Linked DNA regions of Homo sapiens: all the other regions are linked to region 1. Evidence: fine-mapped expression QTL. A gene starts in region 1. Each other region holds a variant in brackets. All regions are shown on one strand. Distances are from middle to middle.

Region 1 (2,760 bases):
TGGAGAAAAGCTACACCAAGAACCGCAATTCTTGGTTCTGTGATTCAGAGTGGTTCAAAGTACAAGGGCACACAATTCTTTAAACTGACAACTAAAATAAATACATTCTTCTCTTGAGCACATAATCCACCTTCTACTGCAGTGATTCTCCAACGGGGCTGCACGTTTACAATAACCTGGGGAGCACTGAAAAATCTGGAAGCCCAGACCACACCTCAGCCCAATAAATCAGTTTCTCTGGAGTAGGAGGCAGGCCCAAGTATTTTAAAGCTTTCCAAGTAGTTCCAAAGTGCTGCCGAGTTTGAAAATTACCTCTCTACTTAACTTCAGGCCACGCGCCTGGAAGACTGCTAGGTCTTCGAGTTTGGGGGGAGTGGACTTCTAGAAAGACCTTCCAGACCTTCAAGGATGTAATGTTTTGTAGTCTCCTTCCACCAAAATTCCCATCCCCAACCTCTCAAGCCATGTGGAAGGGGCTTCACCGATTGCAAAGCGTGGCAGCCACCTACCTTAAGGCTGCAGGCTTCCTCCTCTAGAGAAGCCATTTCTTCCAAAGAGGCGTTGGCAGGACGCAGAGGGGATCCCCCTGAAGACAGGAACCCCCGAGTGTTCCGAATCAGGCAGCCTTTGGAGGCGGCCCCGCCCACACCAGGGCCCAAGAAATGTGGGGAGAAGGAGGAGGAGGAGTTATTTCTGCGGCGGGATGAGCCCCAGGATAACCTCCGCGAGCAAGCCACATCGTCCTCCTTCTGGGCTTTCAGGCGCTTGGGGCTGCTGGGCCCTCCAGAACGCGACGCAGACCTCTGAGCTGGCCGGCTGGAGGGGGCCACATCACAGGGCTCCCGGAGGCAGCTGCGCTTGCGGGGACACCCTTCCGACGTGCTGCTCCAGTTGTGCTTGACCTTGCCCCGCTCGGACGCCATGGGCACCTGCAAGGTACAGGGGGCCTGGATTCCAACACCACCCTTCCTGGCGACCCCACCTCAGATTCCCGCCACCCCGGGCCCAGGAGGACGGCAAGACATAAGGGCAGAGCCAGGGGCTAGCCTCACTGACCTTTCCCTCTTCTTTCCACTGCCCATCACAGTTCTCAAGGTTTCAGAGATGCCAAACCGTGTTGGAGAAGTCAAAGCGATCCAAAATTGACTAAAGGCTGCCGTCGGTTTCCAAGCCCACAACGTGCTTCTGAGATCAGGAAGCCTTCACTTTGCCCAGCGCTACTTCGGAGATGCCTAAGCGCTTCCGGGGCTACGAAGCGCTTTGATCAGTTTGCAATATAAAGCCCTTTAGAACTGTCAAGCGCTTCAGAAGACCACATGGCGCTTCAAGATCCACACATGGCTGCCGGATCCGCGGCCCCGGGGCCGGGCGCTTAGCCCGTAGGCCAGGGCCAGACCCGGGCGCCGCAGCCCGCCCTGCTCCTGCGGCCCAACCAGACCCGGGCCGGAAGGGGCCCGAGCGGCCCCTCGGGAGCTGGCAGCGCCCTCGACCGCCAACTCAGGACGCCCCCCGCCGGCTGCCGCAGCTGTCCCGCCGGGCAGCCCGCCGCCTGCCCCAGCCCTACAGCCCCGCCTGGCCCGGCCTCCGCCCGAACTGCGACCACTCCGGCCTCCGTGGCGCCCGCCCTCCGGAACGAGCCCTGCGGCCCGCAGGCCGGAGAGCGACAGGGGCGGGGCCTGCGCCAAACGGAAGGCGCCCATTGCTCGACCCGGCAAGGGGCGGGACTCCGAGCAAGACGCAGCCCGCCTCAAAGCCAGGCGCCTTGGAGTCGGGACGGTACGCCTTAGGAAGCTCGTCCATTGGTCAGAAGCCAGATGGGGCGGAGCCACTCACGTGGGCTCGAACAGCGGGAAGTTGAGGCCAGCCAGATGTGCAGGCAGGTGGTGTCCGCTGACGCGCCTCACTTAACGCTGTTTTCCTCAGCGCCGGCCGCTGTACCTGAAGCTTTCAGACCTGGATTTCTCATCGAGCCAAAGCAAACCGTGTACTGAGCATTATCACCCCACTTTATAGAGCAGAAAACTGTGGCTCAGAGAGACTAAGTACACACCCAGAAATGGGAAGAATTAGAATTAGAAGGCACCAAAAAAAAAAAAAAAAAGACTACACAAAAATGTGAACTATCCGCCTGGTGAAAAATATTAAAGACGGCTGGGCACGGTGTCTCACGCCTGCAATCTCAGCACTTTGGAAGACCGAGGCGGGAGGATGGCTTGAGCTCGGGAGTTAGAGACCAGCCTGGCCAGCATGGTGCGACCCCCATCTCTACAAAAAATAAAATTAGCTGGGCGTGATGCCAGCTACTCAGGCTGAGGTGGGAGGATCACTTGAGGCCGGGAGGTCGAGGCTGCAGTGAGCTGTGATCCCGCCACTGCACTCCAGCCTGGAGGACAGAGCAAGACCCTGTCTCAAAAAAGAAAAAAAATCAAAGACAAGGTACAAATTCAGAAAAATACTCGAAACATATGACAAAGGGCTGATATTCGATGTAGCAATTCTCCCAAAATAATAAAATAACTTAGTATTAAGACTGGCAAAGGAGGCTGGGTCCAGTGGCACACGTCTGTAATCCCAGCACTTTGGGAGGCCGAGGTGGGTGGATCTCTTGAGGCAAAGAGTTCGAGACCAGCGTGGGCAACATGGTGAAATCCTGTCTCTAGTGAAACACAAAAATTAGCCTGGTGTGGTGGTGGGCGCCTGTAGTCCCAGCTACTCAGGAGGCTGAGGTGGGAGGATCCCTTGAGCCTGGGAAGTCGAGGG
Region 2 (2,760 bases), 25 kb before region 1:
TCCACTATCAATAGGTGGCTGGAGCCCCTCCTATTTGCATCTGCTAAGCTGTTCATCTGCCCTCCCCGACCCCTACACACAGGCAGCAGAGGTTTCAAGAGATTCCAATTCCAACATTTCATTCCTGCCTCTAAAAAATTATCCCTCAGAGTAGTGAAATAAACTATTAGAGCTTTAGGATAGAATATTACACAGCTGTTAAACATTTTTCAAAGTATAGCTGATGAATGGGAAAATTTCACGAGTAGAAAAGACACTTAAAACTATTTAATTTCCTAATTTCTTTCTTTAACACAAGCACACACATCCAACCTACGACAGGTGCATGGAAGACAAGCCACTGTGCAACTGTTCCTTGCAATTGTATTGTACCTTGCAATTTTCCAAGGAACAATAACATTACATTTATAATGTTTCATGAAACACATCCAGATTTCAAAAATGTTAAGAAGGAAGAAGAACTCATTAGAATGCAGGAACTTGTGGTTGGACAGGAGCTATTTGCAGCATTTGTCCTCACCAGGAACCCAGCTGAAAAACAACAGGAGTGAAGGAAGTACAGATGAGTTATTACCCAGTATAATTACTCACTTCTACCTGCATAAGGTTGGCTTCCTAACTGATCCATTATTTCCAGGGATTCCAGAGTTAGTCTCTCCTGGGAGTTGCCCCAGGCATCTCTTGCATATTTATTACTTTAATAATTAATTAATTCCTCTTTAACACAAGTAAAGAGATACAGCCTGGGTAGGGAAGGACAGTCTACTCTCCCTGGCATCCCTCCCAGATGCTGACATGTGCAACTTACACACAAACTATTCAGGATCTAACTCTTATGAGTTACATAGTTAATCTGTAAACACCACAGATCAACAAAGAAAACGTTAACAGTAATTTGCTCTAACCAGCAGAATAACTATAACTACCCATTCTTTCCCCAATTGTTTTGCTTTTCTCTATTTTCCAATCCTTCCAGAAAATTTTAGGTACATCAACCAAACTCTCCTATAATGAGCAGGGTCTGTCACCCTATCATCTTGCCCAGATACAGACCTTCCACAGGCTCTTTTTTTTTTTTAATGTAATAAAGATGGGGTCTCACTATGTTGCCTTGGCTCATCTTGAACTCCTAGGCTCAAGCAATCTCCTGCCTCAGACTCCCAAAGTGTTGGGATTACAGGCGTGAGCCACCTCGCCCAGCCCTCTATAGGTTCTTCTTCTTCCCTTCACAAGATAAAACATTCAGCAGGACACATCCAGAACTTGCTAACTGCTCTTTTAGGTAAATGCAACTCAGCACTGACATCCAACTAGGTGCAGTTGCCAGTCACCA[CCAT/T]TCACCTCATTTGGGTGCCAAATTTTTTATTTACATCAAAACAGTGTCCATATCCCCCACCCAGCCTAGGAGTCTCTGGTGTTGACAAATATTTTCTAGTCTTCCTCCCCTTTACAGGCAGCTTAGCCCTCTCCCAGCCAGCAACTCCTCAGACTCATTATCTTCCAGTCTTGAGTCAAATCTCACCAAGCCAAATGACATCTTCAAGACTGTGTTTATCCCCCTATGCCTATCGCTTCTAGTTCAGTTTGTTGTGCAGGTCGCCCCATGGACCTTTAAGTGCAGACCTGAGACCCTGATAATTTTGTCTTGAGACAGGGTCTCACTCTGTCACCCAGGCTGGAGCATAATCATGGGTCACTGCAGCTCAACCTCCCAGGCTCAAGCAATCCTCCTGCCTCAGCCTCCTGAGTAGCTGGGACCCCAGGCATGTACCATCACACCCAGCTAATTTTTTTTTTTTTTTTTGGTAGAGATAGGGTTTCACCATGTTGGCCAGGCTGGTCTCCAACTCCTGGCCTCAGGTGATCCGCTCGCCTTGGCCTCCCAAAGTGCTGGGATTACAGGCATGAGTCACCACACCCAGCTATACCCAGCTAATTTTTGTATTTTTAATAGAGACGGGGTTTCGCCACGTTGGCCAGGCTGGTCTCCAACTCCTGGCCTCAGGTGATCCGCCTGCCTCGGCCTCCCAAAATACTGGGATTACAGGTGTGATCCTGTAAATACAAAAAATTAGCTGGGCGTGGTGGCGGGAGTCTATAATCCCAGCTACTCAGGAGGCTGAGGCAAGAGAATCGCTTGAACCTGGGAACTGGAGGCTGCAGTGAGCCAATATCATGCGATTGCACTCCAGCCTGGCCAACAAGAGTGAAACTCTGCCTTAAAAAAAAAAAAAAATTAGCCGGGTGTGGTGGCAGGCACCTGTAATCCCAGCTACTCAGGAGGCTGAGCCAGGAGAATCACTTGAACTGGGGAGGTGGAGGTAGCAGTGAGCTGAGATCGTACCGCTGCCCTCCAGCCTGGGTGACACAGCAAGACTCCATCTCAAAAAAATTTTTATTTTTAATTAGCCAGGCGTGGTGGTGTGCACCTGCAGTCCCAGCTACTTGGGAGGCTGAGGTGGGAGGATCACTTGAGCCCAGGAGGTCAAGGCTGCAGTGAGCTGTGGCTGCACCACTGAACTCCAGTGTGGGCGACAAAGACCTTATCTCTGAAAAAAAAAGAAAAGAAATTCTAAAATACTACAACTCTTACCCTGCCAAAGCACTATGCTCAAAAAATATTGGGAGGAAAAAAAATATTAACAGGGGGCGGGCGCAGTGGCTCAGGTCTGTAATCCCAGCACTTTTCGGACGCCGAGGCAGGTGGATTACTTGAGGTCAGGAGCTCGAGACTAGTCTAACAAACATGGTGAAACCCCA
Region 3 (2,760 bases), 29 kb before region 1:
GGGGCTCTGGGTGAGCAGGGTCCCACGCTTCCTTGGACTACCCTCTACAGGGTAGGGCTTTGCACTGCCTGGAAGAGAGTGGTTACCCTTCAGCTTCTCAGCCCCCTAGACTTTTGGTTCTGCAGAGTAACAGCAAGGAGGCATCTACACAGCCCAGGATGGGACCTGGAAGTCACTGGGGCTCTGGCCCTGCCAACCTTGTAAGGGTGACCACCCACCTCCCCACCCTCTCCCTCCGGTGCCTCCACTCAGCCTGAAGACCCCCTTACCTGGCGAGGGAGGAAATAGGGAGCATCCGTTTCCACGATGATTCTCTCCAGTGGGATCTGCCTCAAGGCTTCCCGGGCCTCCCAGGCAGAGGAGTATGTCAGCACTGCCGTGAAGCCCACAGACATGTTGGGAAAGTACTTCAGCAGGGGCTCAATGACCGGGTAGCTGCCGGTGAAGCAATGCCTGGAGACAGAACTCCACATCAGGGCTGCTCACAGTCCCCTCTGCAGCAGCCCCCAGCTCCCCCCACACCCATCACCCCTTTTCAATGATTCCCAGAAATGGAAAGACTGCATCCTAGGGAAGGACTCCACAGTAAACACAGACAAGGGCTGGCTCCAACACAGGAAGCCCCGAGATGGCACTTGGTGAGTGATCAGAGATCACTCAGAGATACCACGCACACCACAGAGTGCTCTGCAGTCCCCTGAGATGACCACCACAGAGAACACACTGGGATAGGAAATGCTTCTAACACTGAAGAGGAGCAAAATCAACAACTGTGGCCCCTATGATGACAACGACAGCATATAAAAACTATGCCCAAGTAGTCAAATGAACTGAAAGGAAATCTAACAAAATACTGGGGAGTCGAACTACAGGTGGATTTTCTTAATCTGATACCTGTTCATGTTCTTGGTGCCATATATATAGTTACCAATCTGTAAATTTAGGGCCTCCTCCTGCAATACCACCTCGTTGGGTCACCTTAGCCCTGGCCTACCAGCCACCATTACATTTCCTTCAAAGTTAGCCCAAAATGAAGTAATGAAAAACCAACCGACCCAGAAAAGCCAACTGACTGCCTCATCATTGGTGTGTGCAGCAGCCAGGGGTCAGAGGCTTCACTCATTCTGCTTAGGTACCCAAAGGCCCTGACAGC[C/A]CCATCCTCCTTTTTCTGCCATCTGACAAGACCCGATTTGGGTGCTAGAGTCCTTGTTATTCAGCCAACCCCTCTCAACCATCTTTAAGGAGCCGGCCAGGCATCACCTCCTGAGTCTTCTGGCTGGGCTATGATAATGGGCCCCTGCTGTGGCTCCCACAGCACCTATGACCACCCAGTCCCACATGCTATGTAGGCAGAAGCCACCATCCAACCTGTCTCCTGGCAGCACCTCCAGATGTCCCCAGAGGCAAGCCAAAGCCCAGGACCTACACGTGGCAAGAGTTCAGAAGTTCAGAGAGTTTACCAAACTGAACTTAAGCACCCATAGATGCCATTCTGATAAAACATGACCTTGATTTTCATAACTGGGGAGAAAGGAGCTTTCAAGTTCAAAAGAGGAAAGAAAATGTCCTTTCAAGTACCCTAAGATGCTCTGTGTGCTAAGCCACCACACCCCACAGCAACCTCTCAAGATCAGCAATCCTCACTGCTGAGAACTGAAACTCCATTTCTGCCCATCCCCAGGATGGGGGCACAAAAGGCCCCTTGTGCTCACTGGTGATTTAGGGTTATTAGTTCAAACCATACGAAGTTACTATTTTGTGAGCAAAAAAAAAAAAAAAGGTCAAATATGAGAAATTTCAAGTGGTTTAACCTAATAGTTAATTCTTTAGAAAAGATAGTGTATAGGCCGGGCACGGTGGCTCACGCCTATAATCCCAGCACTTTGGGAGGCCGAGGCAGGCAGATCACGAGGTCAGGAGTTCGGGACCAGCCTGGCCAACATGGCAAAACCCCGTCTCTACTTAAAATACAAAAACTAGCTGGGCGTGGTGGCATGTGCCGGTAATCCCAGCTACTCAGGAGGCTGAGGCAGGAGAATTGTTTGAACCCGGGAGGCAGAGGTTGCAGTGAGCTGAAATTGCACTACTACACTCCAGCCTGGGCGACAGGGTGAGATTCCGTCTCGAAAAAAAAAAAAAAGAATAGATAGTGTATAATGACAGAATACGATCATTGCTGTCCTCATCAACTTGACAGAGGAAGTGTTTCTTTCATTTGCCCGCTGAAGTTCCAGTCTTCTAACCTATGGATCTTGTAGTCAGGGGGCACAAACTTTTTCATGATTTCTAGCAGATCTTCATCAGCTTCTCGGCAGTGGATCACCAAGGGCTTCTTTAGAGACACAGCCAGCTGCAGCTGTCTCTCAAATACCTAGGAGAGGACACAGCGACAACCCCTGTTGGTTAGCAGCACTTCAGAAGTCCATCACCTCTGGAACGCCCAGTCCAGCAGGCACCCCCTGTGTCTCTCTTTTTTTAACTATATAATGTAATAATAGCTAATGATTATTGGTCACTTACAATAGAGCCAGGTAGTGCCCAAAGCACTGCACGTCTATCATAACCTGCAGTCCTCACAACCACCCTGAGGCAGGTGCTGCTGTCTGCGCAGCATGCAGTGAGGGCAAGTTAACTTGCAGCCAGCAGCTATAGCACCAGGATCCAAACTTGAACCCTGGCATTCCACACAGTAACCACTATATGATGCCGACCTGGGGTGGCAGGGGCAGGGCAGGGATCAAGAACATAAAGCGCAAAGTT

Evidence for each region. PIP is the estimated chance that this variant, and not a neighbour inherited with it, causes the effect.
Region 2: its variant is the best candidate, but not a certain one, in a credible set for the expression of TATDN2 in whole blood (INTERVAL, PIP 0.70).
Region 3: its variant is the best candidate, but not a certain one, in a credible set for the expression of TATDN2 in prefrontal cortex (GTEx, PIP 0.70).

The regions. Positions count from the first base shown.
Region 1 is chr3:10,247,364-10,250,123 of GRCh38, reverse strand. TATDN2 (TatD DNase domain containing 2) reads right to left here and starts at 1,665. Exons shown (of 8, transcript NM_014760.4): 1 at 1,057-1,665; 2 at 510-929. The coding sequence starts at 923. RefSeq lists an enhancer at 229-1,097 and a silencer at 1,350-1,779.
Region 2 is chr3:10,271,917-10,274,676 of GRCh38, reverse strand. All of the region lies in intron 4 of TATDN2 (TatD DNase domain containing 2), which reads right to left. Among named protein-coding and RNA genes, the nearest start is that of MIR12127, 7.1 kb to the left of the region's middle. The variant CCAT/T (reference allele first, on the strand shown) is at 1,334.
Region 3 is chr3:10,275,972-10,278,731 of GRCh38, reverse strand. It overlaps TATDN2 (TatD DNase domain containing 2), which reads right to left. Exons shown (of 8, transcript NM_014760.4): 5 at 2,244-2,371; 6 at 270-453. Among named protein-coding and RNA genes, the nearest start is that of MIR12127, 3.0 kb to the left of the region's middle. The variant C/A (reference allele first, on the strand shown) is at 1,154.